Linked DNA regions of Homo sapiens. The protein of the gene in region 1 purifies or fractionates together with the protein of each later gene. This does not show direct contact. Each region holds a gene or a part of one and is shown in the gene's direction. Other genes may lie near its edges.

Region 1 (3,500 bases):
CATTTTTATATTTTTAGTAGAGACAGAGTTTCGCCGTGTTGCCTGGGCTAGTCTTGAACTCCTGAGCTCAAGTGATCTGCCTGCCTTGGCCTCAGAATGCTGAGATTACAGGCATGAGCCATTGCATCCAGCAGACAGGTGAAATTTTTATTTTGCAAGTGTGTCTATTTCTGTAGTGCGTAGAACAATACTATAGTGGTGGGTTTCCAGGGCGTGCGTGACACTTGGCAGTGGGGGAGACGTGTGGAGCAGGTTTTCCCGGGGAGCGAGCCAGGGTGTGCGTGGAGGTTATGCTTCGTGGCTGTGGCGACTATGCAGCTCCTTCTGTAGACAGCTAACGGAGCTGATCGGGATACAGCGCTGTCAGAACAGGACATTCCCTCCTCTTTTCTTTTTGCAGCATAATGGGTGGAGTGGTTTTGAGCCATGAAGTTTTTTTCCTCCAACATTTCTCAACTTAACAAGTTTAGCAATTTTTAACAACTTAACAAGCCTGTGGCCCCAACATATCACAATTGTGAGGTGATGTGGCGACAGACGATGAAGAGGCAAAGTGGTTGTTAGGTGGATTCCAGGTGAGACAGTTGAGGCCTGCCTGGGTCCATGACCTCATGCTTTCTGACATTGCTCTGTTATTGCCAGTGCTGGGGGTCCCTCTGCAATGCAGAAGGTGTTCACACCTCATGCAGGTCTCCTCTGCAGTGGCACTGGGAGAACTGGAAAGGCTCCAGGGAGAAAGAGGGAGCGCACTGACAGAAGTGGGTGTTCTCGTGTGTGTTCCCTCATAGCCCTTCAGCTCTAGACAGGGTATGGTTGAGGAAGAAATATTGATTCCTACTTCTGATTCCAAATTTAAATGTCTAAGTGGAAAAATATATATATTTAAGATATATTTATTTAAAGTATATTTTATATATTTTTAATTTTAAAGATATGTTTATATATCTTTTTTGCTATTGCTGTTCTTGACCAGTTTTCATGCTTTATTGTCAGTGGATGCTGCCTGTAAAGATTTCTGCCATTTGGAATTTGTTAACTTTTTTTGGTGTGGTCTAATGCTTTTTGTTTCTATAGTATTCCGAGGCAGGAATAAACATTGGTCCTAGGATTTTGCCACCCTAGTGATTTAAGTCATTATTTCTCCATGTTTCCTTCCAATCCTTTTCTGTGTTTCCGTAATTCTTCCATTTTTGAAGTGTATGGACTTTCGGATTGTTCCATTCAACACTGTGGCCCCAGCACTTCCATATTGCTTTCATTAGCGATTTCAGTGTTGTCCATCCTTTGTGTTATCATTTACTTCATCCTTGTCTTTCTTCCTGCGTTTGCTGTTCCATGAATACCTCCGTGCCTACAGCTTCTCCTTCTTCCAGCTCATCTATGCATCCAGCTGTGTGCCCACCCTTTTACTCTGCACGGGTACACAGGCACTGCACTCCTGGGCCTCACAGTTTAGTTTAGAGGCACAAACAGAAAAGCAAAATGACAACTGGAGCAAGCACCAGGAGGGAAGGGGATGTGGAACAGCGTGGGGTGATGCTTTACATTGAGCATGGCCTCTGGAGCCAGCCCAGGTTGGATTCAAACCCAGATCACCACTTAGGACCTCTGACTTGGCCAGGTGAATTCATGTCTCTGCCTCAGTGTATTTGTCTGTGAAATAGTGCTTATTTTCCTCATAGGTATTGTGAGGGTTACAGGCGGTAATCCATGTAAAGCCCTCCCTCACACAGTGCCTGGCTCCTCATAAGGTCTTCACTGTTAGGTGTTGTTGCTGTGATCATCATCGTTCTAGAGAAAGTATCTGTAATATAAATGATCAGGACTTACTTAGACTGTAACACAAGTTTTAAGTTAAAGACATACATGGCGGCTGATGTTACTTGCTTTCACTGACCCCACCTTGTATCACTCAGTCTCTATCCATCACTGTTGAGTGCTTTCTTCAGTTGCCCTCCAGCCAGCTTTCCTTTGGCTGACCTGCCTTTTAGTAATATGTTTGCTTAATGTTTCCAAATATGAGACCTTTGGCCAGGTGCAATAGCTCATACCTGTAATCCCAGTGCTTTGGGAGGCCGAGGCAAGAGGATCACTTAAGGCCAAGAGTTTGAGACCAGCCTGGGCAACATAGTGAGATCTCATCTCTACAAAAAACATTAGCTGGGTGTGGTGGCCATGCCTTTGGTCCTAGCTACTCAGGAGGTTGAGGTGGGAGGATCACTTATGCCCAGGAGTTCGAGGCTGCAGTGAGCTATGACCATGCTACTGCACTCCAGCCTGGGCAAGAGTGAGACCCTGTCTCCCCCCCCCTTTTTTTTTTTTTGATACAGAGTCTCACTATTTCACCCAGTTTGGAGTGCAGTGGCATGATCTTGGCTCACTGCAGCCTCCACCTCCTGGGGTCAAGTGATTCTCATGCCTCAGAAAGGGTAGCTGGGACTATAGGTGTGCGCTATCACGTCTGGCTAAATTTTTTTTGTATTTTTAGTAGAGACAGGGTTTCGCCATGTTAGCCAGGCTGGTCTCAAACTCCTGGCCTCAAGTGATCCTCTTGCCTTGGCCTCCCAAAGTGCTGGGATTACAGGCATGAGTCACCATTCCCAGCCAACCTTGTTTCTTTAAAAAAAAAAAAGCTTTTAAGACACCAGTAGAAAGGAGATTCAGGTGAGAAAAGGAAGTCCAACATTCAACATTTCAAGTACTTGTCATGACGTGACAAGTACTTGAATGTGCTCAGGCTGAGTATGATGCCTATCGAAGTTCTAGTGGGAGTCGGGCCTGAGACCATGGAGCTAAGAGCCCACTGGTCTGGCTCTCAGAAGTCTGATTTGCAGGCTAGACAGTAACTGGGCAGCTTTCTATGGCTCAATTCTTCACCTCAAAAATAAAGATGGTGAGAATGGCTGCCTAAGAGTTGGAGTTTTAAACAAGATTAGGAATCTCACATGCCTAGCACGGGGCACCTGTAACCCATCGCAAGTGCTCCGTAAATGTTAGTGATTAAAGGGAACATTGAACCATTTTCAGTTCTTCTGCATTTTATGGGGGAAGTGGTATAATCCCGTGGTGGTTTCTTGTTTGGCGATGGGGAGTTTCTGTAGCCGCATCTCTGGGGAGCGGCAGCAGTCTCCTGCTTGTGATATCACCAGAGTCTGTCTTGACTACCCTGGCCTGCCGTTTGAGCTGTCTTGAACATAATTTCTTCTGTGACTGGGAGATTAGGAACCTCACACACCAGCCTGTCAGATTATAAAAGAGAAACAGAAGCTGGGGGAGAAGAGACACATTTATAAAAGACTAAATTTGTAAAGAACATTTAGAAGTCACTGCTCAGAGGTGATTCGGTTTAGTATCCTTAGCAGCTTCTTCAGTTCATTGTTTTTATTATTAGGAAAGTCTAAGGAAGTTTTCTGAGCTTCATTTTCAGTGTTTTACATGAAAACACTTCACCCCCTTTTTGGTTTGCTTTTTGTTGCTGTTGGATCCTTTCAGCTTTCTTG
Region 2 (2,317 bases), on another chromosome or scaffold:
TGAGTGAATGATGGAGGCCTTAAAAAGATGTGAGCATCTGAAAATCAGCTGGGTATGGTGGCACGTGCCTGCACTCCCAACTACTCAGGAGGCTAAGGCGGGAAGATCACTTGACCTCTGGGGTTTGGGTTGCAGTGAGCTGTGATTGCACCACTGCACTCCAGCCTGGGTGACAGTGAGACCCTGTCTCTAAAAATAAAAGATGTGAGCATCTGAGATCACCCCCTAGAGATTCTGATTTTACTGGGGCGGTGCCCAGGCAATGATAATTTAATAGGTACAGAGAAGAGGGAGGTGGAACTTTGAGACCTGCCCACGGGTGGAAGCAGAACAAACCAGAGATGGGGCTAGGAGAGGCTAGGAAACTAGGAGAGGCTGGCAGAAAGGAGGGAGGAGATTAGGTCAGGAGCAAGGCCGTCTCAGGAAAGACGGAACAGCAGCTGCGTCAGAGGGAGGAAAGCCAGGCTTTTCATGAGGACTGGACTGTCCCCTTGACCTTCGTCTCTGGGCTGTGGACATTGGTGGGGGTGGAGAATGACTCGGTGTGGGGAGGTGTGGTGTTAAGAAGGGAACAGCAGGGCGATAGATTGTTCTTTGAGGCTTTGAGCATTCACTGAATGGGTGAGGAAGGAAGACTCGGGAGAACTACATGCAGGCTTAGGGGTTCTAGAGATAGAAGGGGAGGCCTAGCGTGGTGGCTCACACCTGTAATCCCAGCACTTTGGGAGGCCAAGGCGGGCGGATCACTTCAGGTTAGGAGTTCGAGACCAGCCTGGCCAACACGGAGAAACCCCGTCTCTACTCAAAATACAAAAATTAGCCGGGCGTCGTGGCGGGTGCCTGTAATCCCAGCTACTCTGGAGGCTGAGGCAGGAGAATCGCTTGAACGCTGAAGGCGGAGGTTGCAGTGAGCCGAGATCGTGCCACTGCACTCCAGCCTGGGAGACAGAGCGAGACTCCGTCTCAAAACAAACGAACAAACAAAAAACAAACACAAAAAGAAAACAAACAAACAAAAAAACAAAAAGACTGGCTGGCGGGAAGGGTGACTCGGGCCTTTGCTCCCGAGCCAGAGCCCCCAACCCTGACCTGATCCCCCTCTCTGCGCAGGTGGAGTTCTACTTCCTTTCCCAGTACGTGTCGCCAGCCGACTCCCCGTTCCGCCACATCTTCATGGGCCGTGGAGACCACACGCTGGGCGCCCTGCTGGACCACCTGCGGCTGCTGCGCTCCAACAGCTCCGGGACCCCCGGGGCCACCTCCTCCACTGGCTTCCAGGAGAGCCGTTTCCGGCGTCAGCTAGCCCTGCTCACCTGGACGCTGCAAGGGGCAGCCAATGCGCTTAGCGGGGATGTCTGGAACATTGATAACAACTTCTGAGGCCCTGGGGATCCTCACATCCCCGTCCCCCAGTCAAGAGCTCCTCTGCTCCTCGCTTGAATGATTCAGGGTCAGGGAGGTGGCTCAGAGTCCACCTCTCATTGCTGATCAATTTCTCATTACCCCTACACATCTCTCCACGGAGCCCAGACCCCAGCACAGATATCCACACACCCCAGCCCTGCAGTGTAGCTGACCCTAATGTGACGGTCATACTGTCGGTTAATCAGAGAGTAGCATCCCTTCAATCACAGCCCCTTCCCCTTTCTGGGGTCCTCCATACCTAGAGACCACTCTGGGAGGTTTGCTAGGCCCTGGGACCTGGCCAGCTCTGTTAGTGGGAGAGATCGCTGGCACCATAGCCTTATGGCCAACAGGTGGTCTGTGGTGAAAGGGGCGTGGAGTTTCAATATCAATAAACCACCTGATATCAATAAGCCACCTGTTGACATCTGTTATTGATAAGCGCCTTCATGCTTCTTCCTCACCCTCATGCCCATCCCATCCCATCATCCCTTCCTAGAGACCTAGGGAATTGGGCAGAAGGGACCAGAGAGGGTGCACACAGGAATGCTGTCTCCACGGGGAAAACCGAGCTGTTTCTATCACTCAAGGAAAATGCCTAAGGAAATACTGAAGGCCCCTTCTCCAAAGACCACCATAAAGCAGGTGGTCTTTGGAGAAGGGGCCTTCGGTATCTTTTTTTATTTTTGAGACGGAGTCTCACTCTGTAACCCAAGCTGGAGTGCAGTGACACAATCTCGGCCCACTGCAACCTCCACCTCCCGGGCTCAAGCGATTCTCCTGCCTCAGCCTCCTGAGTAGCTGGGACTACAGGTGTGCACCACCACGCCCGGCTAAATGTTTTCGTATTTTAGTAGAGACGGGGGTTTCACCATGTTGCCCAGGGTGGTCTTGAACTCCTGAGCTCGGGCAA

The links. Proteins that work in one complex are often made in the same cells at the same time.
Region 2: the proteins of TBC1D2B (region 1) and TFR2 purify together in Homo sapiens (affinity purification with mass spectrometry; one large-scale study listed by BioGRID and IntAct). This does not show direct contact.

What each region holds. Positions count from the first base shown.
Region 1 is NC_000015.10:78,018,712-78,022,211, reverse strand, and holds part of TBC1D2B (TBC1 domain family member 2B), read left to right. Parts: intron 1-3,500. UniProt on the Homo sapiens protein: GTPase-activating protein that plays a role in the early steps of endocytosis.
Region 2 is NC_000007.14:100,619,920-100,622,236, reverse strand, and holds the end of TFR2 (transferrin receptor protein 2), read left to right. Parts: exon of another isoform or gene 1-115; intron 116-1,110; coding exon 1,111-1,380; 3' UTR 1,381-1,817; downstream 1,818-2,317. UniProt on the Homo sapiens protein: Mediates cellular uptake of transferrin-bound iron in a non-iron dependent manner. May be involved in iron metabolism, hepatocyte function and erythrocyte differentiation.